Linked DNA regions of Homo sapiens: region 1 is linked to region 2. Evidence: fine-mapped expression QTL. A gene starts in region 2. The other region holds a variant in brackets. All regions are shown on one strand. Distances are between the middles of the regions. Region 1 overlaps TBL1XR1 (TBL1X/Y related 1). Region 2 holds the start of TBL1XR1-AS1 (TBL1XR1 antisense RNA 1).

Region 1 (16,331 bases), 44 kb after region 2:
GGAAAAAAAACAAAAAAACAAAATACAACAAAAAATACCTTAGACGGAAGTTTTTTCTCACAGTTCTGGAGGCTGTGAAGCCCAAGATCAAGGTGCCAGCAGATACAGTGCCTAGTGAAGGCTCTCTGCTTCATAAATGGTGCCTTCTGGCCATGTCCTCCTCATACTGTTTAAGGAGCCTGGGGGTTCCCTTCAACTTCTTTTATAAGGTCACAATTCTATTCACTGAGGGCAAAGCCCTTATGTCTTAAGCACTTCCAAAAAAGCCACCTCTTAATACCACTGCAATGGAGATCAGGTTTCAACATAAATTTTGGAGGGACAAATTCGGACCATAGAGCTTGGCTTGTAGACACATCACTCTAGTCACTTTGCCATGTTCTCCCTGTGTCTTCACACTGTTCTCCCTCTGTATGTGCCCAAATTTTCTCTTTTTTATAAGGACTCCAATCATAAGGTATTACGATCTACCTAAATGATCCCATTTTAACTTAAGTATCTCTATAAGGACCCTATTTCCAAGTAAGATTACATTCTGAGGTACTGGAGGTTAGGACTCCAACTTACGAATTTAGGAGGATACAATTCAATCTATAACAGTCACACTAAGCTGAGAAAGCCTGGGAAGACAAATACAGATTCCATCATTTGCCCCTTCCATGCTGTAGAAGACAGGTACAGACAAGGGTAACAAAAGCCTTTTCTTCTTACCTTCAGTCATCTGTCCACCTTGGTTATCAGAGAATCCCCTTAAAACAAAAAACAAAACTAACCCTAATAATGGTAACTATGATGGCATCAACACATGGGAAGAATCAATTTAAGTGGCTGTAGAGGTTGAATGTATTACTGGTTCAGAATTTAAGCATTCTTTTTTCCTGAAATAGAGTTATTCATCCCCATCCCAGCAACTTGGACCTTGGCTATGTGACCTAATTTGGCCAGTGGAATTCCAGATGATGTGATACACACTATATCCAATCACAAGATTTAAGAGACATTACAAGTGTCTGCCAGCTCTCTTGCTCAACGAGCATGTCCTATATGGGGTCTACTTCAACAGCTTGGCTATCCAAATGAGCAGACAACTGGAAGAGAGCCACAGTCAACCCACCTTATCTACATACAAAATGAATGAGAAAGAACATTTTAGTATTGTAAACCAGTAAAACTGTCTACTAACAAAGAACACTAACACACCTTACAACAGTACTTTCGCTGCATACATCTCTAGGGAATATAATCTAAGAACTAAAAAGAACCACAAAGAAATTTTAAACTGCTTTTGGTAGTCTTATAATAATAGTTTTATTAGTATTATTAACTTGAAACTTTTTATAAATATAGAGCAGGTAAGAAACTATGTTAAATCCATCATAAAAGAAAATTTTCAGAAGGGAAAAATACTTATTTACTTTAGATCTCACCTGAAAATGAGGGGCTTTTGGTGAGATGGAGTCCTTGAGGAAAAGGGAAAATAACTTATATTCACATAATACAAATGAAGCTTTAAAAATCTACACGTTCTAAAATGTATCCAACACCTCTTACAGCCACGTCTCTCTTTCTACAGTACCTATCACCTGTATTATTACGACAGCCTAAGAGTCTCCTAAGTTCTCCATTCTATGGTTCCAAAGTACCTATCTAGCCATATGGTACCACCTTTATATGCACTTTACTCTTCAAGTGAGTATGCTGGTATCATTCTAACATGTCCCACAAATTTCCACTTTTCTGCTTTTAGTTCTGTTTCAACTGCACTTGTTGAAATTTGTCTATTCTTCTTCAAATATTATCTCTTTATGATACCTATTCAAATATCAACATTAAAGATGTCTGGCTACTTTCCTCCTGTACCCCTAAGTGCAGTTTTATTGCTCTTCTCAAAACTGGACAACAGTAAAAAGATTATTGACCAGAAGTCAGAACGTTGACATTTTCTTTTTGATGCTACTGGCTTTTGACATTAAGGCATTACATCAAGTCATTTTAACTTCCCGGAGCCCCAGTTTCTTCAACTGTGAAAGAGAATAAAACCTAATCTATACACCTCACAGGTGGGAATGCATGGAAAAGCCATTTATAACCCACTAAGTGTTAACATTATTATGATGTCACCTTTTAATATGCATATTTTTTCAACCACTACCAAATTATAAGCATTTAAAAAGCAGTCTGTCATGATCTGGTTTCTCTTCAGAATGAATAAATCTTTTGCCTGTTTTAACAAAACAAATCAGCAGCCTGTATCTTATAAGGCACCTAAAACATTATTCAAATATATTTTTAAACTTTCATAAATAATAAAACATAGCTCTCATGCTCCAGCATATAAAATATAATTCGGCTGAGTGCATGGTTCACACTTGTCATTCCATCACTTTGGGGGGCAGAGGCGGGAGGATCACTTGAGCCCTGGGCAACATAGGGAGACCCAGGATCTACAAAAAAAAAAAAATTTTGGTTTTAATTAGCCAGGTATGGTGGCATGAACCTGTAGTCCCAGCTACTTGGGAGGCTGAGGTGGGAGGATCACTTGGGCCCAGGAGTTTGAGGCTGTAGTGAGCTATGATTATACCACCACTGCACTCCAGCTGGGGCGAAAGAGTGAGACCCCCATCTCAAAAAAAAAAAAATAAAGTATAATTCAAGCAGTATTTACATACAGTTTTGCCTTGATTAAAATAAAACAATATCGGCTGGGTGCGGTGGCTCACGTCTGTAATCCCAAACCTTTGGGAGGCCAAGGCGGACAGATCACGAGGTCAGGAGATTGAGACCATCCTGGCTAACACGGTGAAACCCCGTCTCTACTACAAAAAAAATACAAAAAATTAGCCGAGCATGGTGGCGGGCGCCTGTAGTCCCAGCTACTCGGGAGGCTGAGGCAGGAGAATCGCGTGAACCCGGGAGGCAGAGCTTGCAGTGAGCTGAGATTGCACCACTGCACTCCAGCCTGGGCAACGGAGTGAGACTCCGTCTCAAAAGAAAAAAAAAACTGCTAGGGACTTCTCAAAAGGACACAGAAGCCAATTTGAGTACCGATACAGAAAACAATGCAATAACCTAAAACATAAATCTGTGTAAATCCATGCATTCGTAGCATAGGCTATTTTAATGGCAGTTACATCACACTGTTGGCTGATTATTTCTTGGGATGTCGGTATTTCACAAAAAAAATGTCGGCCGGGTGCGGTGGCTCACACCTGTAATCCCAGCACTTTGGAAGGCCGAGGTGGGTGGATCCCGAGGTCAGGAGATCAAGACCATCCTGGCTAACACGGTGAAACCCCGTCTCCACTAAAAAAATACAAAAAATTAGTTGGGCGTGGTGGCAGGCGCCTGTAGTCCCAGCTACTCGGGAGGCTGAAGCAGGAGAATGTCGTGAACTCGGGAGGTGGAGCTTGCAGTGAGCCAAGATCACGACACTGCACTCCAGCCTGGGCGACAGAGCAAGACTCCATTTAAAAAAAAAAAAAAAAATTTGTATCTAGTATTATAGCTGCTTAGATCTTATCCACACTCTTGGACTTATTTGTAATTTTTTTAATCTAAATGTAACACTCTACAAATAATTCCTGTTATAAATTTTAATCGACTGTTGCTACAGTGCGTGATAAAGTGGCAGTCATCATTGGTAAGAAATCCTCTGAAAGTTTAACTCTTAAAAATAATAGTCAAACGTCAAGAAGAGGTAGCAGTAAAATAAAAAAGTGTCACAAGTAATTGGGTCTATATAATCAATTAAAATAAATATGGGTAGAAAAGGAAAATAAGAGTTAGACAAGAATGAGGACTAGTAACTAATGAGGGTAGCAAATCACTTTATGTGTTCATTTAAAAAAAAAAAAAAAAGCTCACCCTGTATGTGATGTTGCTGAGTTCCATAAAGACAAATATCAGGCCGCATGATGTAATAGAAAGAGTCCTGGACTGAGTCAGGAGACCTCTGTTCTAGTCCAAGGCCTCAGTTTCCTCATCTGTAAAATGAGGGTACTGAATTAGATAATCTGAAAGGGCTCCTCTAGCTTTAACACTGAGTGATCCTAAAGATGAATTTAGGAAGAATCAATCAAATGTAAGATTTCTGTTAACAGTAAGGTTTAACTGTTAACACTGGAAACAGCAGTAGGGAACAAGGTTGAAAATAATTTTCATAAGGACATAATTATGTCCTCAATAAAAAGGACATACACAAAATTTTAAATTGCAAAAAGCAATTGCTTTCTAACTTTTAACTGCTAGAAAGGTTTTTAGAATATATCAGCCTTAGTAACATTATCAGGCTTTATCATTAACATCTAAGCTGAATTAGTAATGAGTAACCCAAATTATGGCCCGAAAAGACCTATTCACCTTTGGCCAGACTGCCCAAGTAAATCTAGAAAATAGTACACCTTTGGGCTAGTACTTACTTTAAGTGATAAAGTGCCCATAACTGCCCCTGATGAAATAACTGAACAAAGAATAAAATGACAAGAAAAATGATTAGAGTAAATTAAACTATTTAAATTTAACATGCAATAAAACAATAAGTATGCTTGTGATATCCTTCTGTGTTAATGAGCATATTTTCCCTACTCATAATACTTTTTTCTGGTTCTCTCAAAATAGAAATCTGGCTTCTCCTTCTGACAATAAAGCTAACTGAAAGAAAAAATATATATTTTTTTTCAGTGACACACAGAAACATTTTTTTAAAAGAGTGTCTCCATGTTTAAGTTTTCTATACTGAAAGAAATCAAACATCTATCAGTAACAATAGGTCCTGGTACCTCAAAAACTGTGGTTTTCTAACTAAATTACCTAAATACAATTAACTGCCTGGTTCTAGCAAATCCTCCAGGGTCTGACAAACTTAACAACTAGCTTTAAGTTCAAAGATCAGCTGATGTTCTACTTTATATTTATTTGTTCCTTTATACTTCATTGCTTATGTTGATGCTAAGGTTCTTACCTGGCAGACTTAACACTTCAAGGATATGAGAACCAGTAAACGTATCTCTACAATCAAGAAAATCTTAGAAATCAACTTTTAAAGGATGTAAAGATATGATGAAACATTCATATGGAAAAAGCTTGTTTTTAAAAGTTTTTCTTAAATGCAAATTACCTAAAGTGATTATAAAATAACTTGACACACATGCAAGTCCACTACTTAGTCATTTGAACATTTCACCTTGGCAATACATAGTATCTCCTAATACGACATTCAGAATCATTAATAAGATTTCTCTCTTGTTCTTGGCCAGTCTTAAGATGGATGTAATATCAATGTGTCTCTGTGATAGAAATCTTTGAAACAAAACTTTCATTTACATGAAATTTATTTTTCATTTTGATTCTGGTATTATGATGGCAAATAACAGAAATCACATGGATATACAGATAACTCTTTAGGGTTCTATTTTGATCATGAGCTGTTTTCAGCAATTTTATCCATCTATCTTACCTTGTCCATCATTTTTTTCAGAGACTTAAACATTCAGATATTTAATAACAGGTGGGTTGTGGTGGCTCACACCTTTAATACCAGCACTCTGGGAGGCTGAGAGAGAAGAATCATTTGAGCCCAGGAGTTCTACACCAGCCTGGGCAACATAACAAGACCTAATCTCTACAAAGAGTTTTAAATATTAGTGCATGCCTGTAGTCCTAACTACTCAGGAGGGTGGGGTGGGAGGACCACTTGAAACCAGGAGGTCTCTGAGGCTGCAGTATGCCGTGACTGCGCTGCATGCACTCCAGCCTGACTAGATAAGGCAAGACCCTGACTTCAAAAAAAAAAAAAAAAAGATATTTAATAATGAAAATACAACTACTAATTATAAGATACAATTAATAGTATTGTCTTTAGTCAGTATAATTACAGTATTGTATATATAATATACAATATAAAATTTAAGTCTAACTGAACTATTGTTTCTGTTTGGGTAAAATATTCTCCTCTAGGAAGACACTGGTACTAAAATTAGAAGTTAAGGAGAATTTGATGTTTAAATAACTAGCTGGTACACAGTGTGAAACCCCCTTGATTGTTCACCACTAAATTTCTATCTGGAAGGCATGAACACACACTTGCAATTCTACCATCTCCAAAGTCAGCATACAACACAATTTTCTCTAAGACCAAAATGCCTTTTTTAGGTATCAGTAATATAGAATTCTTACAACAAAATGGCTAGAGCTACGCACAACATAGCACTTTTACTTTGAGAAAGTTATAATATATACAAATGGTGATTTAAACAAAAAAATTATTGCAGTATATTTGGAGTGATAAAAAGACAAAAGACCAAAAAAGAAGTCCAAATTTTTGGTTGCTAGAAAAATATCAAACCCTTATAACATCAAGTAATTTCATGTTATGTTCTAAAATGAATTTAAAATTGAGGTACTTCAAAAAAAAATACCAGAGAGAAAAATGAAATAAATTTAAAAATCTTATATCTTGTAATTACAAATTATATTTTGATACTAATATTTACTTTTCTCTCATCCCCACTCACAATTTAATCTGATACATATATTTAAAAATTGAGCCTATCAGAATAACTATCAGATTAACTTTCCTAACAGCAAATTAAGAGAGGCCAGAAAATGAACTGGTATTTGTAACAGTTATGCGTAACACTAGATGTTACAGCACTGAATTTTAATACAACTATACTTGTCTCTCAAAACTTTATGAAAGAACCATAAAATCCTGTCACAGTGGCTTTTTAATCCAACAACTCCCTAACAGACTATTACTAAATTTCTAAGATAGAGATTATATATATATATATATATATATATATATGAATATGAGACGGAGTCTTGCTGTGTTGCCCAGGCTGACGGGCAGTGGCACCATCTGGGCTCACTGCAAGCTCCACCTCCCAGGTTCACGCCATTCTCCTGCCTCAGCCTCTGGAGTAGCTGGGACTACAGGCGACCACCACCACATCTGGCTAATTTTTTCTGTATCTTTTAGTAGAGACGTGGTTTCAACGTGTTAGCCAGGATGGTCTCGATCTCCTGACCTCGTGATCCATCCGTCTCGGCCTCCAAAGAGATATTTTAAAATAAATTCTAATCAATCCAATCTCGCTAATAATTCCACAATAAAAATCATACAGCATTTTTTTTTGAAAAATAAATACAACACACTGAAAAAAGTGTCCTAAGCCATAATCCATAAATGACTATTGGTCAATTAAGAGAGTGGAAACAAACTCTTAATAATTTCCTCCCATAGCATTTTCAAAAACCTGTTCGAAATTACCAATTCCATGAATTCCATCTCCCATTAATCATACTTGAATCTGAGCACAGTCTAATTATGTATCCATCCCCTCCAA[ATGTC/A]TGTATTAGAAATGACCTTAGTCTTTGCTACATCATTTTGAAACGATCAAGTTAGTATGTATGTTTTGTCTTCTTGCTTTTATTTATTCATATTTCTCTATCTTTCTGCATCATAAGCAGGTCACAGCTTAATGCACAGGCAGAAAAATGTTACCGATAAGCTCTTTAAACTATTTTCAAATTTAAAGAAATCAATTTTGATGAATGCCATAAAAAAACAACATATTAACAGGAATCTGACTTCGAGAAATATCATTCACTGGTCTCTATTTTATCTTAACATTTTACTATGAAAATTTTCAAACATATAGAAAAAAAATGAATATCCACATAGCTACCACCTACAATTTAAAATTAACATTTCCTCATATTTGTTGTTAATACATCTATTCAAAGAACTTGCAGTCATCAGTATACTTCTGTAAATACTGCAACTTGCCCATCAAGTAATGGTTTTTTTTTGTTTTTGTTTTTGTTTTTTTAAAGGAAAAACTTGGCCAAGCATGGTGGCTCACGCCTGTAATCCCAGCACTCTGGGAAGCTGAGGCGGGTGGATCACGAGGTCAGGAGTTCGAGATCAGCCTGGCCAACATGATGAAACCCCATCTCTACTAAAAATACAAAAATTAGCTGGGCGTGGTGGCGGGCACCTGTAATCCCGGCTACTTGGGAGGCTGAGGCAGGAGAATCATTTGAACCCAGGAGGCGGAGGCTGCAGTGAGCCCAGATTGCCCCACTGCACTCCAGCCTGGGAGACAGGGCGAGACTCCGTCTCAAAAAAAAAAAAAAAGAAAAAAGAAAAGAAAAGAAAAAACTTACACAAAATACAACGGACATATACTGGCTATATCATTCAGTAAGTTTTAACAAACGTATGTACCTGAGTAACGTAAATCCCTAACAGAATACAGAACATTGCCAATGCCTTAGAAAGCTGCCATATGCACTTCCCCACTTAATCCCTGTCCTCACCACTCATTCCTACCACCTACCAACCTCTTCTTCTTTCCCTTTCATAACTTCGTTTTGGCTGTCCCACCCCACATGCACAATAGATGAGGTCTGTCTGGTTTTAGGATATATGTAGAATCACATATGATGGCTTGTTTTGTGAAGACTAATTCAGTCAGCATAATGTTTCAGAGATTAATCCAAGTTGCTGCAGACATCGATGCCTTGGTTCCTTCCTATTGCTTAGGAGTATTCCATTGTACACATACAGCAACTTGATAATCCTTTTTCTTGGTTTATAGATACTTGAACTGTTACCAGTTTGGGGGTCAACCCCATATTTTAGGAGAGTTTATAAACCACATTTGGTACTCCACCTCTATGGGTATCTTCTTCCTGGATTTCCTCCTTTCCTGTGCTGGACCCCATTACTCTGCAGTGCAATGTTAGTTCTGAACAATTCTCTAATTCCTCTGCCAACGGGAACCTGTCCTCAGGCAAAGATCCGTCAATAACAGGAAACTCCAATGCCATTCTCTTAAGAATCCAATCCGGTCTGACTTCTGAAACAGGTTTGTTCTATGGTGTCCTCATAATGTTTGTTTTTCATATGTTGTCCAGAAATTGTAGTTACTATTTGTGGGAGGATTTGTTCCATAGCAGCCACTACTCCATTTGTGGAATTATAACTCTCTACTATTCTTCTGAGCACACTTGTTCAACACTGTAATTGGCCTACTTTTTTGGTGTTCCCCCCAACTTTCACCAGCTAGATTGAGCCAGTTTCTTTCAATCAAAAAATCGAAACTAAATCAGAAAAAACGAGGCCTCCAGGAACTGAAAAGCATAAGAATAAATCCCTAAGAGAGAGCTGAAGTGGATCCTGCAATTCTTCCTATGAACCAACACAAGTTCCAAATTCATCCCAAGATGTGCATGTGGAACATACCCAAAGAAGCACTACAAAGGTCTTGAGAACTGAAGACACAAATCACCTTCAGGTTCCATACTAACTCCTGAGAGGCTCAATCAGGAAGCAGACTCATAGTAGCTTAGCAAAGACTTTGAAAACTGAACTGACATTGGAACCACTGCCCATGGGTGCCACAGAACTTGGGAGTCTGAGCCTATCAATGTTAATTGCTTGCTTTCATTTAAAAACAACATTCTCCAGGAATGGTACAGATGAAGAAAATCTGATCATTCTCAAAGGAAAAGACAATAACAGATATTAATCCTGAGATGATCCAGGTGTCAGAATTCTCAAAGATGCCCATGAAGGGACAGGAAACACAAGTTCTCAGAAGTAGACACGATAAAAAAAAGTTTTCAAATGAAAACTTTATGACTGAAAAAATATGGGAAAAAATTCTAAGACAATAGGATGTATAGGAAAATGATAGCAAACACTATGATCTTCCTGAATAAGAGATTACATATAGATGACAATAAAATTCTGTTTTAATAAAAGAAAATTTTCCCAAAATAACAAATATCTTTAGCTCTCAAAAGTAATGAAAAAATCTAGAGACCTGTCATCAAGGTGCTTTCAATCCTATTATTCTATGGGTGCCTGAGGTCCACCAAAAACTCTCACGATTCACCTCTACACAATCTGTGTTACACAAAATTTAAAAGAATGCTGGAGTGCAAATGAGATAATGGTTCAATTCTTGGTTCTGTAACTATGACAAAGTATATGATATGGAATCACTTCTCTAAACATTAGTTCTTCATTTGTAAAATGAGAACTAAACAAGAGAACTTACTTAGCTTTGTAACACAGTCCCAATATCTAATTTTAGGAACCCTCAGAAAGTCATTCCAGTCTCCCCAGATATTAGCACTAGCCAAGTCCACACACGTAAGTTTTAAATTATCTAGTAGCCACATGAAAAAGTTAAAAAGAAACAGGCAGAATTTATTCTAATAATAATATTTTATGTAACCCAATGTATCTGGAATATTATTTCTTATAATCAATAGTTTAAAATTGAGATATTTTACTTTAAAAAATTAAGTCTTCAAAATCCAGCATGCATTTTACATTTACAGCACATCTCAATTCTGACTAGTCTTATGTCCAAGTGTTCAACAGCTACGTATTTCTAGTGGTTACCATACTGGGTAAGTCTAAATACAGACATGAAACGGTGGGGGAGGGGAGCCAATAGAAAAGAAGGGCCAAGGTGTCTCAATATGGGTAGTCTGTCTTACATACATACATACACAAGCTGTATGTTCAGGGGGTAATGAAAGTGTCTGCTCTGTTACATGACATGGGGTTGGAGCAACGGAAGTCTCTTTTCTGAAATAAATTTTCATCTCTCTACTATAATTAGAGCCCACAATTTTTTTTTAAGAAAAATAATGGTTTTCTCACCAATGAAACAGATATTAACAACTTTACATGGTTATAACAATATTTAAGTAAGATAACTACTCTCTATCACGGAACATATACAGTTGACCCTTGTACAAAGCAGGAGTTAGGGTTTTATCAACCCACCCAATCAAAAATCCACATATAACTTCCGACTTCCCAAAAACCTAACTACTAACAACCTAGTTATGACCAGAAGTCTTACTAGTAACATAAACACACACACCTTACATGTTGTAGCTATTAGATGTTGTATTCTTACAATAAAAGAAGCTAGAGAAAAGGTTATTTAAAAAATCATATGGAAAATATATTTACCATTCATTAAATGGAAGTGAATCATCCTGAAGGTCCTCATCCTCTTCACAAGGCTGAGGAGAAGTTGGTTTTGCTGTCTGAGGGGTGGGAGAGGTAGAAGAGGTGGAAGGACAGACAGGCAGAAAGGCAGGCATACTAGATGCAACTGTACTTTTAAAAAAACCAAGTAGAAGTGAACCCACATAGTCCACACCTGTGTTGTTCAAGGGTCAACTATACTAACCCTTCCATTTTGGGGTTGATTTTTACTTACTTTTTTATTTAAAAAAAAAATTAAACTAATCAAAATGGTTTTTGGCATTTTTCTCTTACATGTTTAAAGTACCTCTATGTAATCTGTTCTATAATCATAAGCCCTTAGGCTCTAAGTCACTTTTTTAAAAAATATCAGGTTGTAATAAACTCAAAATGATCCCAATAAACATCTGACAGGAAATGAAGGCCTAACATATAGAGGGTTGTGAATTAAGAACTTTAGCATTCCAACCTTTTTGTTTTAAAAACTCTCCTTACAGGTGCTAGTAAATCATAGAAAAAGAGAGAAAATAGGCATGGTGAAGGATTTCTGTTTCTATGAACCAGGAATAAATCAAAAGATATAACTAAAATTAACTGGCTTAAGAAAAAGGACAGAAGTTGAAGAAGCAAACAAACAGAACCTGTATGAAACTAGAAGTTCCTGTCCTTTACACACTAACTTTAGCATGTTAATTTCTGTCTCAAGCAAAATTTTTTTTTTTTAAATCATGCAATCTTATCCACTGGACGGATGGATGAATGAAAGGAAAAAAGAATGGGGGGCGGGGAGTCTTCAAATGGCTTCAATACACCATTGAAGTAAGAAATGGCCTTCAGTTTCCAATTTTATGGCTATATGGGACCATGCTGTCCAACCCCAAATAGTCAAAATCTAGTAAGACCAAATTTAATATAGTACACCCAAAGAAAATTAGGAAAACTTAAAAATAAGCCAGATAATATTCAGTGATAGGACACCTTTTGTTTTAACATTACCGTGTTAAACATCTATCCCTCTATTGTGGGTATATGTCCTTGCTCTCACACTACTCTGTGTTTCTCGAGGTAAGACAGCTAGTATTTTATTCCTGAATAGTGCCTACACTGAGAATTTATAGAAAGGACAGCAAAATTATTTGAAACATGAAAAATGTTTTAAAATGAAAATAGTAATTCACCATAACAAGTTCTATCACAGTTAATATAAATTGAGCACCCCAATCTAAAAATTCAAAATCCAGAATGTTCCAAAATCTGCAGTTTTTGGAGCAGTGACATAACGCCATGAGCAGAAGATTCCACACTTGATCTCATATGACAAGTCACAGTCAAAACTCTGGTTCATGCACAAAATTATTTAAAATACTGTATAAAACTGCCCTCAGGCTATATATATATAAGGAGTATATGAAACATAAATGAACTTCGTGTTTAGACTTGGATCCTATCCCCAAGATATCTCATTATAGATATGCAAATATTCCGAAATCCAAGTAAATATGAAATCTGAAATACTCTGGTCCTAAGTATTTTGGATAACCAATGCTCAACCTGTGTAAAGATTAAATCCATGTAAGAAGCCAAGCTTTCTCTGCCTTTCACGTGATACTACAGTCTTTCACAGCTTCCATTTTAGGCTCAGTTATTTCAGCCTCTAATGACAAAGATACAAGGAATCAGTTAAATATAACTCCAATTTGTGTGTGCTCTGCTTTTCTTCATTTGTTTAAAAAAAAAAAAAAGAAAAGAAAAGCCTAGAGACTAAGAGGTGTTCAATGTAACCCTCTTACTGTTGATTTGGGAATCAGCTCTCCAGAGGCATACATTCTCAACCAAATGAAAATGGTTCACACAATATCATGCGACAATGTCCTTCTTTCTTCACATTTAATAATACCAGTTCCTAATCATGATGGTAAAAGATTAAAAATGAAAGTAACAATGAACTTTCCTACAGTAAATAGAACAAATTAATTTATGGATGCTACATTTATAAGTAGGTAATAATCATTGACTCCTCGCTATGTACCACACTCTTTCTCGGCAGCGACCTGTTGGCAGGGTCACAACTCCTTGGGGTCTTGTCTTCAGTCTGGCAAGTCATAACTTCTTTCAGTTTTTTAAGAATAATCAAGTTCTGAGAGAAGATATGTTAACAAAATACAGCAGGGTGGTTTATGAGTAAAAGAGGTGATTTACTAATTACACTGAGAAATGTACCTGTCAGTAGACCAGAATATTCATCAATGCAGAAGAGGCCAGCAGGGCCCAGCCCACATTCCCTCATCACTCAACTTTCCCAAGCAGCTGGGTAGCTTTTTACTGCAAAGCACCCTGAGGCCAAACAGCAGGTCAGGAGCTGCTGCCCTGCCCTCCGCAAAGCCTAACTGCCTAACTCCCAGACTAAGGAATGGGGGTTAGTGGACAAATTACCCGAGGTTCCTTGCCCCTTAGGTGGAAAAAGAGACATGTTCTACACTGTTCCCGAGGATGCCACATGATTTGAGTCCAACTGAACAAAAAAATTAGTCTTTCAGGCAGTCGGTATCAGCCTCCTTTTCCCTTTCTGGCTTCTCCACAGGAACTTTCTAGATCCACCTCTCCAATAAAGGGTTATAATCAAGGGTCTGGTTCCTCAAGAATCAAACCTAAGAGAACTGCTCAGCATCATTCTATTCTTTGTGGAAGAGTCCTGTTGTTAAACCAAATTAATTTTTAGAAGTTGTGGGATGACTATACAAACAGAACAAGAGGAAATAGAAGGGCTCAGGGGATTGATCGACACAGTTGGTAGACTTTTCTGGAAAATAAGAATCTATCTGTGGAACAGTTCAAAGAAAAAGATATGCAAACAGTTCTAAAATAAACTAGCAAACAGTTATAAAATAAATGAAAAGATGCAAATTAGAACCATAGTGAAATACTATTTCTCACCTATCAGATTAAAAGACATATATGTATCAAAAAAGACATCATATATACTGTCTGCTAATGGGGAAAGAGGGAACCTCGTATATTGCTGAAAGGAACATAAGATGGCATAATGCTTTACAGAAGGAAATCTGGCAAATTGACATGCACATTTCATGCTCCTATCTAAAAACTTCCACTCTTGAAACAGCTATCTGTGTAATGGAGTAGAATGCAGCTGTAAAACAATGAATAAAGACTATCTCTATGTCCTGCTATGAAGTGATCTCCAGAATATTTAAGAATACCCATGGATTTGTTTACATTTGAGCAAGATAAACCAAAAATAGTTTGATTTTTAAAACTTGGTTACTTACAAAAGGAGGAAGTAAGAATGTATCTCACTTTGAAGTGATATAAATGTTTCCTATGATTATAAAACAAAATAAAAACAAATATTTTTAAATTCTAAATACTAAAAATAAAATGAAACAAATTGGCCTGGACCCAGCATAGTGGCTCAGGCCTGTAATCCCAGCACTTTGGCAGGCTGAGGCCAGGAGGAGTGCTTGAGCCCAGGAGTTCAAGACCAGCCTGGTCAACACAGGGAGACACTGTCTCTACTAAAAAAAAAAAAAAAAAAAAATCAGCTGGGTGCAGTGGCTCACATCCGTAATCAAGACACTTTGGGAGGCTGAGGCAGGTGGATCACGAGGTCAGGAGACAGAGACCATCCTGGACAACATGGTCTCTCTTAAAAATGCAAAAATTAGCTGGGCATGGTGGCACGCACCTGTAGTTCCAGTTGCCCAGGAGGCCAAGGCAAGAGAATCACTTGAAGAATTGAGGCGGAGGTTGCAGTGAGCCAAGATCACGCCACTGCACTCCAGCTGGGCGACAGAGCGAGACTCCGTCTCGAAATAAAATAAAATAGAAGTTAAAACAATTAGCCAGGCATGGTGGCATGCACCTGTGGTCCCAGCTACTTTGGGAGGCTGAGGTGGGAGAATCGATTGAGCCCAGAAGGTCGGGGCTGCAGTGAATCATGATCAGGCCACTGCAATCCTACCTGGGTGACTGAGTGACACCCTGCTGAAAAGAAGAAAAGAAAGAAAAAGAAAAGAGGGAGAGGGGAAGGGAAGAAGAAAAGGGAAATGGGAGCAGGAATTGGGGAGATAGGGGAGGGGAGGGACAAGCTGACCCAACTATATATCAAATTGGAGGTGGGCAGGGGGGCAGATTACACATGAGGACTTACTTTAAAACGTAATACTTAGCTGTAATCCCACTGAGACGTGGACAAAAAGAGAAAAATGAAAACAACAGTCACTACTCATACTGGTTAAATATACATTTATAAATATAAAAATACGTATAATTTTATATTATGTTTATTTTCTACATTTACATGTACTTAAAGTACTTATAAAGTACATGTACTTTATATGTCATTTATACTCTACTTTTGTTTAATACATTATTTTCTATTATGTTTACATATTAACTATTGCATATTATATAACATAAATATATAAATATTCTTTTTCACTAAAAGGAATCAGGACTTTAGAGACATAGCTGATCTGAGGACCAATGAAGGACATGTACAAGATGAGCTTTGGCCAACATGTTGTTTTGTCAGAAAGCAAGGAAGCTACCAGAGAGACAATACTAGAGTCATGTCAGAAAAGACTCAGAAGTCAACTTGAAAAGGCTCTTTTGGCCAAGGGAATGACATCAATAAGAATACAAACTACAGTCAATAAAACATATCAAATGCCTAAATCCACACGCTCACAATAACTCAAAAAAATCCTCACTTGTTACCTAGAAAGGTATTCAAGAATACTAGAAAGGCTTCCAGGAAACAACTCAGTACTTTGAAAACTGGTAAATAAAAGAAAGAATCATGCATTTCATATGCCTTTCCTGTGCAATCTGTGCCACAAAGTAACGAAATATCTGTTGGGGAAAGTTTCTCTTTATAGAAATGTTACACATAATAAAAGCTTGATATAATTGAATATGAACATTCTCATTGCCCTCATGGAAATAATGGTTCTAGGAATGATCATCAATGTCGCCTACTGTCAGGAATAAAAAACAAACATTGGGTGCTTCCTTATGCAAGCATACAGTAAGTGTCCTTTATCTAAAACGATTGGGACTACAAGTGTTTCAGATTTTGAAATATCTGCAGTATAACGGTTTAGCGCTCCCATTGTGAAAATGTGAAATCCAAAATGCTCCAATGAGTATTTCCTTTGAGTGTCGTGTTAGTGCTCAAAAAATTTCAGATGTTGGAGCATTTCAGATTAGAGGTATTCCATCTATACTTAGCACCACCTGTGAAATATTCTGCCACCCCAACCTCCCAAAATAATAAAGGAAAAAACCTAAA
Region 2 (11,720 bases):
GTGGGAGCTAAGCTATGAGGACACAAAGGTATAAGAATGATATAATGAACTTTGTGGACTGGAGGTGGGAGTGGGGAGAAGGCTGAGAAGAGAGGTGAGGAATAAAAGACTACACACTGGGTACACTACACTGCTTGCAAAACCAGTGCACAGAAATCAGCACTAAAGAATTTATTCTTGTAGCCAAAAACCACCTATACACCAAAAACTACTGAAATTGGAAAAAAAAAAAAAAAAGTTTCCACTTCATGAAATCTTCCCTAAACTTCTGTCATATCTATTGGAAGTCTGATTTGTAGAAGACTCATAAAAGGAAAAATGAAACAGAAGTATCACCTTGCTAACATAAGGTTGGCATTTGGATTATTAGTCCCTGGTCCTGTTGGACTCCATTTGATAGTATAAATTTCTTTATTATGTGCTTGCAAATCATGGACACAATTGTCTTGTTTCATACTCCATATCTAAACAAAAAAGAAAAATGTATACAATTATTTTTCCATACAATGAGTATATTTAAAATATTATTTTGACACTTAAAATATTATATGGACAGTCTAAAACATGAGTGATATAACCAGAATGATGATAGAATATTTACAAAGAAACTGAAATGCAATAGGATATATTTAATATTTACATCTCTGTTTAAAAAAAAAAGTTAGCTTTAAGCCCTTTAAAAATATTCACTATTACAAAGTTTGAAGACTGAATTAACTATAGTTGTTCTGAGATTAGTTAACGATCCTAAAATGTTGAAGGCACAGTTTTTACACTGTCCCTTAAGCAAAAGATCTACATAATAAACTGCTCTTAGAATTTTAGAATCAGGAAAATTTTACAATGGAGAACTGAAAATAAATAACCAACTTATAAATAATGAGGACTCACAGAGAACCGTAAAAAGTAGCATAGGAAATAAAGCTCAAATGAAAAGTAGGAAAAAAAAAAAGTAGAAAAAAGTAGTCAAAGTAGAGAATAAGCCTTTCCTGAGATGAAAATATGCCTGTGTGTATAGATTTCAAGTGACTATTATTTTTGAGCAAAAATTCATAGAAATCAACACGAAGAGTATTTCTGGGAAAAAAAAAATCACTCAATAAAGACATGGTAGGTCCTGCAGTTATCTCCTTAACACATACACATACAACATGCCAAACCCAAGGAGGGCCAACCAAGAAAAAAATCAGCTCAACTTTACATTTCCGTGACATAACCATTAAAAGATAATGAAGCATCAGAGTGTTTTTGGTGCCCTATGTATTTACAACCCCAAGTAAAATAAATCTGAACGACATGTTTTCAGAACTGATTTCATTAGACCTTTCTAATTCATAGAATTTGATACTGTTGGCCACTCTCAACTCTTACCTCCCTTGAAATAAGTTTCCTCTACATACTTTCTTTTTCCACTTTCTCAGTCACCTTCTCAGTTTCCTTTGGAAAGCTCATCCCTCTTGATTTGGTGATTGTTAGAGTTTCTAAGACTCACTTTTTTAGGTCCCCTCTTTTCTTACTCTGTACTACCTACACAGTTTTGTCCCTGCCCCAATTTTTTTTTTTTTTTTTTGGAGATGAAGTCTCACTCTCTTGCCCAGGCTGGAGTGCAGCACCACAATCTTGGCTCACTGCAACTCCGTCCCCCGGGTTCACGCAATTCTCCTGCCTCAGCCTCCAGAGTAGCTGGGATTATAGGCACCTGCCGCCACGCTCGGCTAAATTTGGTATATTTAGCAGAGATGGGGTTTCACCATGTTGACCAGCCTGGTCTTGAACTCCTGACCTCAAGTGAACTGCCCACGTCGGCCTCCCAAAGTGCTTTAATTATAGGCATGAGCTGTGGCAACATGGGGGCACTAGCTGTGGGTGTCTGCCTGCAGACCCTGACCCAGCAATGGATGAATAAAGTACACTAACACACAGATATCCTGTTTCGCCAGTCCAGCTGAGGGTGTCCGAGCCATTTACAGACTCCCTGGAGAGTTCTGTAAACAGTTGCGACCATGGCCCTATCCGCTAGTGAGACTCAAATTTATTCAGTAAGATTAATTCACAAAGGCTTGAGTCAACACCATTAGAGGGTAACTGACATTGTGGACTTCCCAAGTAAAAAGCACTTAAGCACCCATGGCACATCAAAGGTTAGTCTTAATATTATATGAGTAAACAAGCTAGCTAGGTAAACTACCCTGCCTTCCTTTATTACTAGTTTAATTTGTTTAACTAAAGGTAAAGGAACCAGGCCGCGTTCAGCCAGATCTATTACTGAAGTTACTTCTCAGTTTTCCAAGAAGATATGTGTCTATTTCTATAACTATCTCTAATATTTTTCCCACCAGCCTGATTGAACCCCAACAGTGAACCACCAGGCCTGGCCATGCCCAAGGATTTTAAAGACCACCTATCTGCTGAGAATTCCCAGTTTTTAATCTTGAGCTTACAGTTCTCTAAGCATCAGTCCCACCTATCTCCTCCATTCGCATGACTCAGCGTCACCTTCTCATTCCATCTGGCATTCCCTCTTCTCAGAAAACGGCCCATTACACATTATCCATCCATCCTAGTTTTTGCTTTAAAATCCTTTGTGACATTTAAACATTCTTAGGATGAAGAAAAGCTCTCTAACAATTTCTAGTTTTAACCTCTCTCCAGCTTCAACTCAATATGTGGCACAAGGCCCTCTGGACACTGCCCTTCTGTCATTTCCTCATATGTGTCACACACAGTTCCAGAAGAAGTTTTTTTCATGTTATAAGCATTAATACGTGTGCACATAAGGAAAAGCCAAAGATGAAAGCATTAAGAAGAGTATTAATACTAGCAATTTTGTAAGGGAGCCCAGACTTAAGAAGAACTGTCTAAAAACATAGCAGATACTTAAAGGAGAAAACCTCACAAGTTTCGCAAAGTTAAATTTAATCTGTTCATAGTAGCAGGAAAATCAGTTTTCCCTCATGATTTTCATATCTGTAACGGTCATCACATCTGCAGTCCTTGGTACTGCAAAGTCAAGGATAAAACTGTTTTCAGTAGAGGGTTAGCTGTTGCAGGAGAGGGCTCAAAGCTTCATTTATTTTGGAAATAAGTATTACGTTGTTCTTTATCTCCAAATGCTTTTTTCCCCAAATGAGGAATCTGGTGTGCTTAGGTGCGAGACAGCAGTTTTGCTTTTAGTCATACAACAAGAAAAACAGAGATCCATGTTGAGATGTGGATGTTGGTATGTCAACTAGGCTCGCTCACTGAGAGATTCTCTGCTATGTATCAGTTTCCCAGCAATGGTGATACATAGTCATACCACAGCAAAATCAAATTAATACAACGCAAAGAATTCCAATCAAATCCATGAATGCTACAAAGATTTTGAGTACTTATTAAGTCAAATCTTTACATATGCAAATAAACTTTAATTGCAAATAAACTTTAATTGCCTCAACATATGACTTTCTAATGGTGAAGACAATTTATAGCATGACCTTTCTTACTATTGGTGATGTCTAATTTTATCTGTCTTCTTGACTGAGTCACAGGGTACAGATATTTGGTGAGACATTATTTCCGGCTGTGTCTGAGGGTGTTCCCAGTTGAGACAGGCATTTAACTTAGCTGACTGAGAAAAGCAGACTGCCACCCTCCCCAATGGGCGGCGGGGGGGGCATCACTCAGTCCAGTGAGGCTCTAAACAGAACAAAACCGCCAAGGAAGCAAGAATTCTCTGCCTCAGCCTGACTGCTGAGTTGGTATATTGGTCTTCTGCTCTTGGACTGGGACTTACACCATTGGCACTCCTTCTCTGGCCCTGGAATGGAACCACACCTCCATCTTTCATGGGTCTCCAGCTTGTAGACAGCAGACTGTGGGACTTCTCAGCCTCTATAATCACGTGAGTCAATTTCTCACAGTAAATCTCTCATCCATCCATCCATCCATCCATCCATCCATCCATCTTCTTATTGGTTCTGTTTCTCTGGAGAGCCCTAACTAATAGGGTATCATATGTCTCATTGTATCACAAGCCATCATTTTAATATAATTTGCTACATTCAAATAGTTTTATGTATTTCAGAAAAGAAACTATAAAATTTAAAAAACAATGGTTAGCCATTTAAAATGTTGGAGTTTTCATGCAGGTACAAACACTCCATGTAAGACAGACATTCTAAATGGTCTTAAAATGGCCAGAGCAACCATACTGTGTGACACCGCCAACCCATTTCTCCCTACTAAGCAAATTACCTTTAAAGTCATGTCGTCAGAACAGGAGGCCAAGAGATTGCCAGTTGGGTCCCATTTGATAGCATTTACTTCATTCTAAAAATAATAGTAAATATTCACATTTTCATTGTATAGACTGGGTAGCTACTTGAATATTAAACATACATACTTTAAAACTATTCTGAAACATTACTTGTTAATCATGACCACTTTAATGTGGAAAAAAGGTTTCTTACCGTATGTCCTTGGAATGTTTTAATAGGTCTGTCTTGTCCTAATTTACAGACATGAATGCACATATCTGTACTACAAGAAGCAAAGGTGTTGTTGCTCTGCCAATCAACATCCAATGCTGGTGCTGCAAAGGAACAAAGGTTAGATTTGCTTTTATTCCACATGTACTAAAATCCAAGAGTTTTAGCTTTGAACCATTGTTGACTAATAAAATATACTAACAGGCACTTAAACATTTTACTTTATACTTTTTAAGATATTAAGAAAAAATTAAAATAAAAGTATCTATATACAACAATATTAACAAATTTCAATTTAGTTATTTCTAGGTGAGACAGACCCTAAGAGAAAGTACACTGGCCTAGTAACTGGGAGATGAAGGTTCCTGAGAGCTGGCTCTGTGGGTCTTGGGTTCTCTTTTATAAAATGATAAAATTAAATGTGATGATATCATGCTTTTCATTTCTAAAATCTGTGAGTGTTCAATGGACAAGAAGCCTCGGTTCTGTCACTGCATAATTAGTGGACACAAGCAAGTCACTTAACCTCTATGATATATCCTCTTTAGATAAGGGTAACATGCAAGTGTTACCCTCACACACAAGAGTGAGGATAACACACAAGTTGAGCACCCCAATCTGAAAATCCAAAATCCACAATGCTCCAAAATCTGCAACTTTTTGAATGCTAATATGATGCCACAAGTGGAAAATTCCACACATTAAATGCTTAATACAAACTTTACTTCATGCACAAAACTAGTAAAAATACTGTATAATGATGCCATCTGGCTATATTATAAGGTATATGTAAAACATAAATTAATTTCATGTTCAGACTTGGGTCCCATCCCCATGATATTGCCTTATGTATATGCAAATATTCCGAAATCAGAAAAAAAATAAAAATAAAAAATGCAACACAATCCTGGTCCCAAACACTTAGATAAGGGATACTAAACTTGTACTATCTTTATCCTTAGTACACATGGTGAAGACCAGGTGAGATCATGTGTGTGGAAGTACTCTGTCAATTACAAGAGTTAGACAAATGTTATGCTGAATAAGTATCATTCCCATTATCATCTACTCAACTAACAAATGGAATACGGCATATGATTTGCAAATAATTTTCTTCTAAGCAACTTTTGCCAAATACCTCTTAAAATCTGTTCTTGTCAAACACCTCTTAAAATCAAATGCCCCTTAAAATCAATGAATTTAAAAATCTCTGAAGCCCCAAAGCAGGCTGGCATTTAATACTTTGAGTTTAGCTCTGAAATTATTGAACATCCTTGTCTCCTGCTGCAAGGTGCAAAAGATCTCCGTAATTAGCAACACAGATTATGGTAATAATAGTGAGTAACTGGGTTAGGCAACAGAAGCATATCAAAGACTGCATTTAAAGCAGGGGTTGACAAACTATGGCACATAAGCCAAGAATGGCTTTTATAGTGCAATGGGGGAGGAGGGGATCAAAGGAAGACATACAAATGTGGAAAAATGAGATTTAAAGTTCAGTGTCCATAAATAAGAGTTTTATTGAAACCCAGACAAATGCATGAAGTTGCATATTACCTATGGCTGCTTTTTCACTACAAGGGCAGAGCTGATTAGTGGCAACTGAGATCTTATGGCCTACAATGTCTAAAATACTTTCAAGTCCTTTAGTGAAAGTTTGTCAACCCTAATTTAAAGAAAAAACTTAAAGGGGAAAAACAGGAGAGTTAAAGTTGAGCTGTGTGGCCAGGTGTGACTCAGCGCTTTGGTAGCAAAGGCAGGAGAACTGTTTGAGCCCAGGTGTTTGAGACCAGCCTGGGCAAGACAGTGGGACCTCATTTCTAAAAAATAAAAAATTAGCCAGGTGTAGTGGTCCATGCCTATAGTCCCAGCTACTTGGAAGGCTGAGGCAGGAGGACTGCTTGAGCTGGGGAGGCCGAGGCTGCAGTGAGCCGTGATTGCACCACTGCACTCCAGTCTGGGCAACAGAGTAAGACTACTATGTCTCAAAAAACAAAAACAAAAAGTTTAGCTATGTATACTAATTAGTAGAAATACAAAGCATTTAATAAAGGAGATTAGAGACGTCTGTGGAAAGGGAAAACAAAGCCACAAACTCCCTCATTGTGTATATCCAAGCATAATAGTAACTGGCTATGTTAAAAATGAAACATAAACAGGTGCTTAAGCAGTTAAACTTATCAGCCAAGAGATATGTCATGCGTAAGAACTTGTAACTATGGATAGGAGAAGTAAAAAGAATGGGAAAAGAAGATTTAAAGCATTTAGGACTCAGAAAGGAAATTTTAATCAGAACTATACTGAGATTTTTTTTTTTTAAAAGATAAAGTACAACAGGAAAGAGTGAAATTGATTTCACTGCCTGGCTAAAGACAAATCAGGTAAGCCCCAAATCTAAAAGTACTAAGTACTAAAGAACAAAGAAGCGAATTGTAGTAATATGACCAGACATTAAAATAATTAGTTTTGGGTATATTTCTACAATGAAAAACTAGGTATCAGGACACCACTTGGATAGAGTAAGCTCATAAAGGAAACAGACTGGAAAGAAAAGATTTAATGGGAACTTACTATGGAGGTTACATGAAATTTCAAATAACTATATTTTTAAAATATTTAATCCTCCCTCAATCAACCTTTTAACAAAGTGCCATATAAAATTATTAACATAAATTCACCTTTTATACAAAATTTCAAATTATGAGAATTCCCAACAAAGTAAACATAGTCAAAAATCACACCTCAGAGTTGTCAGGCTGAGTAAGTTGCAGGCTGTATTTTTATTCTAGTCATGAAGCAGCACTGCTTTAGCTGGTGTTTGCTCTTCCTGCCCATAAGCCTTTTTGCCTGTGCTGTGTCCAATTCCCAGCTGAGTGCTTCACTGCTAAGGGCTGCCAGGGACAAACTTCACAGAACTGCCTTGCTCTGCTGCTCTGTATCCAAGCTGGTGTTGTGTATGTTTTTGGGAAGGAGGGAGGGAGGAGAGATCTAAAGACCTAGCACCCTTGGTTCAATGTAAGAAAAACTTTGAGGTGCAAGCTCCCCTCTGCACCAGGCTGAGACTGGGCCTTTCTTCACCAGAATCACTTCCTTCCTTGGCTTCTTCCCTCCCCCCCATCCTGCTTCCCATATTTCTTCACTTATTTCTCCTAAGAGGTTTTCCACAATAAGTCACTTCACTCAAATGTTTGGCACAGGGCCTGCCTTTTGGAGAAACCCAACCTAAATCAACTAGTAAACAAAAATATGTGCCAACTTTATCCGCATGATGTGTGAACTCTGCCTCTACTTGTGTGTATCACCATTTCTGACAGCAATGTGGATGACTGTCCTGTTCATTTGGCAGTCAACTCTCATTCGTTCCTTACTGCACTCTGCCCTGCTAGGATGTGCAACCCAGGAGGGCTATTGTAAGTTATGTCCCGGGTTCCTGTGCCTAGTGGTTTCCAGATGGGTTCATACAATGTAAGACACTGTCAGGAGTTCAAAGTGAGGAGTCCAAAGTTAGGAGTAGTAAGAAGACAAGCACGACTGCCATCATTTCAGGCTGGGTGTCGAGCATTGCCAGGCAGCCTATCCTCTACAACCCAGTCCCCACTGGACAATCAGGTCCTGCCTTCTCCTCTAGAGTCTTAGACTTCCTTCAATTAGTCTCTTGGTTACCTCCTATTCCTTAGTTTTTCACTCTTCCCAACACCTCTGCAAATATTTCTTTGTATTAAATTCCCTTTATTGGAGTGTCTAGTTTACACGTCGTTTTCCTCCATGGAACCTAATTCAGTAACTACTGTGCACTTTCATTTTGACTGTGCACTTTCATTTTGACATTAAGTATTATCACTTAAAATACAATTCTAAAAATTTTAATTTTTTTGGTTAGTAATCTTTCTATTGTTAACAAGTGCAAAAAAATGGGGAAGGGAGGCCTGAAAAATCCAATTAGAAGACAGTTAAAGATACATTAAAGTGTTATTCACAAGGCCAAATATATGTCAGGATGTTCCAGAGGTGTTAATTTTATACAGGGCAGCCTGCAAAATGTTAGAGAGGAGGCTAAAATAAACAAAAAGTAGCATTAAAACAAACACGCTATTAGGTTCATAAAAGAAAAACAAAACCAAACTACATAACCAAATCAAGATTGTTGGGATGTAGGAAATGTTGCAACGTAGGTTGTGTGATTAACGCTTTTGTGATATGCCTGCCTCATAAAATACAGTGCTTATAGATTGATGTAATCAAAGAACACATACCTCCTTATTTTATATTTACTCTTAAAATGAGTCTTGATAGTACAAGTTCTTTAGAAAGAAATATCTAACATAAAAAAAAATTTTATGTACCTGACAAGTGAGAGAAGTGTGTTCACTAATACCCATCTCATTTTACACATAAGAGGCTATGAAAACTTAATTTTCCCAGTTAAATAATTTCTTAAAATCTTGGAGCTAAAGTTAACATTTTTGTCTGCTCCACCCCTCTTCTGATTTACTTTCATTAACCCATGTAGCCTCCATAATTTTAAAAGAGAAGGAATGAACCTATGAGCGAAGAAGGATGCATTTATTACTGACTTTATTTTTAAAAAAAAAAGCCTTTATTGACATATAATTCACATACCAATTCACCTGTTTAAAGCATACAATTCAATGGATTTCAGTATATTATTAACTTATAAAATCTCTAGTCAAATATAAAACTTTCTAACTTAATTTTGATTTCTCCTTTGGCCCATGAGTTATTTAGAAGTGTGGGTTCCTGAGTACTTGGGCTCTTCCAGAGAGCTTTCTAATACTGATTTCTAATTTAATTCCATTGTTGCTATAAATGTCATTTAGGTCAAGTTATCGGATAATCTTCAAATCGTTTATAGCCTTACTTCCCTCTTCCCATCTTCTCAGTCCATCAATTATTGAGAGAAGAATACTAAAGTCTTCAACAATTGGAAGCACAATAATTTCTATTTCCTTTGAAGTTCCATCAGTTTTTGCTTCATATGTTTTGAAACAGTGTTATTAAATGCATTATCATTTTAAAATGTTTTGTTGAATTGACTGTTTATCTTGTATTAATAACCTCCTTTTTCCCTGTAAATCTTCTGAGCTTTGAAATCTAGTTTGTCTTATATTAATGTAGCCATTTCAGCTGTCTCTTGCTGAAATGCATACTTATACACTTGAAATGTATAAATGTACACTTGATTAGTGATAGCATGGTATTTATTTTTACATCATTTTATTTTCAGCCTATTGATATTTTTGTATTTGAAGTATATTTTACATAGGCAGTATATAGTTGAGTCTTGCTTGTTGATTCAGTCTCACAATCTCTGCCTTTTAATATTTAGGCCATTTACACTTATTTTGCTTTGTCATATGGTTACATTTAAATTTACTGTACTTCTGTTTATCTCTTCTGTTCTTTCCCCTTTTTGTATTTCTACCTTCATTTGGATTAATTGGATATTTTTTATGATTACATTTTCTTCTCCTTTGATGGGTTCTTAACTGTAATTATTTTTAGTAGTGTTTTTGGATTTATAGTGCACACCTTTAACTTGTCACCATCTACCTTGAGGTGATAATTTTAAATGGGCTAAATAATCTTATTTTCTGCCCCTCTTCCCTCCCCTACCTTTTTACCTAAGATTCTAACTATGTAGGTATTAGTCTGCCCAAAGTTTTATCACAACTCACTGATGCTCTGTCACCACACCCTCTTTTCCAGTCTATGTTCTCTGCGTTTTTGGATAGATTCTATGCTGCCTCCAAGGTCATAAATCATTTCTTCCCGCAGCATCGAATCTGTGGTTTATCCTAACCAGTGCACTTTTCATCTCACATGTTGTTTAATAACATAACTTCATCTCTAGAAGTTTAATAACATATCTTCTGTGTCTCTACTTAGCTTTTTGAACATATGATATGGTTAATCTTTGAACAATGTGAGGGTTAGGAGCACCAACCCCCTGTGCAGTTGGAAATCTGCACATAGCTTTTGACTCCCCAAAATCTTACCAACTAATAGCCAGCTGCTGATTAGAAGACTTACTGATAACAGTTGAATAAGATATATTTTGTATATTGCAGGAATTAAAAATTATGCAGAATGAAGACAGACCAAAAAAGAGTATATACTGTATGATCCCAATCATACAATGTAATCTAATCTCTGGGGATGGGAGAGAGATATCACTAAGGGGCAAGAAGAAACGTCTGAAGGTAACAGATGTATTCATTATCCTGAGTGCGGTAATAGTTTCAATGGTGTATACATATGTCAAAATATATCAAATGGTTCAAGTAAAATACATACAGTTCATTTTATGTCAACTGTACCTCAATAAAATTGTCTTAAAAACAAAAGTATGGTAAGAAAGAATACGATGGGTAAACTGAAGCTTATTTATTCGTAAAAATACTTTGATACTATGTACCTCATCAGGTTGTAGTCAGGACTAAAGGGGACAGAAAGAGCACCATCTCCAACACAGAGTTGGTACTAATCATATGGTACCTAGCAATAGTACCATAAACATACTTACTTCAACTTTACATTACTCCTAGGATGTACGAGAAATTAGTATGATTAACAGCCAAGAAGCCTGAGAGAATTCTGAAAACTAGAAGCAAAGATGAAAAGGAAGCACAACAGGTGAACAAAAATGTATGTGTAAATGCTTATTAAGTGGTGAGCTTTAATCAAGTTGAATTGTTTAACGATGTTTGCAAACTTATTCAGATACTACAGAAAAATCATTTTGCACCTTATTTTGGCTTGTTTAGGCACACTAAACAGAGAATGAAAAAAAAGCAAAATGCCTGAAGTTGCAAATTTCCATTTTAAAGTTGATGCTGTGCCACTGGCTCGCTGTTTGTAAAAGGATGTCATCAAAGATTTGAGAATAACCAGGGTTATTTTAGTCAGTCTCCAAACTGAAATTTTTTCTAGCACAACAAAATCAAAGAGACAGCTAAATCAGGTAGTACTAAAACCACTGGGTATCTTGTTCCAGTTTAACATCATTTAGTTACTGCAGTCGGGAAACTCACTGAAAAGCGGCGCAAAGGTTCTAGGCTTAAACGGAGCGTGGGCACAAAAATATGGCTGGCTCTACTCAAGCTGAATGTCTGGGTGTGTGACTGTATATCATGAAGGACGGAGCACTATTTTCGAGGTCTGATTAATCAGATAAAAGTACCACATTGAGTATTTCTTAAAAGAGAAATCCATCTAAGCCACCAACATTCC

What was found. PIP is the estimated chance that this variant, and not a neighbour inherited with it, causes the effect. A credible set is the group of variants that fine-mapping cannot tell apart.
Region 1: its variant is the best candidate, but not a certain one, in a credible set for the expression of TBL1XR1-AS1 in tibial nerve (GTEx, PIP 0.52).

What each region holds. Positions count from the first base shown.
Region 1 is chr3:177,075,963-177,092,293 of GRCh38, forward strand. The region is part of intron 2 of TBL1XR1 (TBL1X/Y related 1); the gene reads right to left. Among named protein-coding and RNA genes, the nearest start is that of TBL1XR1-AS1, 47 kb to the left of the region's middle. The variant ATGTC/A (reference allele first, on the strand shown) is at 7,347.
Region 2 is chr3:177,033,862-177,045,581 of GRCh38, forward strand. It overlaps TBL1XR1-AS1 (TBL1XR1 antisense RNA 1), which reads left to right and starts at 3,544. Exons shown (of 4, transcript NR_174966.1): 1 at 3,544-3,883; 2 at 4,501-4,589; 3 at 11,036-11,123. TBL1XR1 (TBL1X/Y related 1) reads right to left here. Exons shown (of 16, transcript NM_024665.7): 11 at 4,452-4,573; 12 at 4,237-4,311; 13 at 337-464. RefSeq lists enhancers at 3,519-4,718, 6,060-6,354 and a silencer at 7,765-8,009.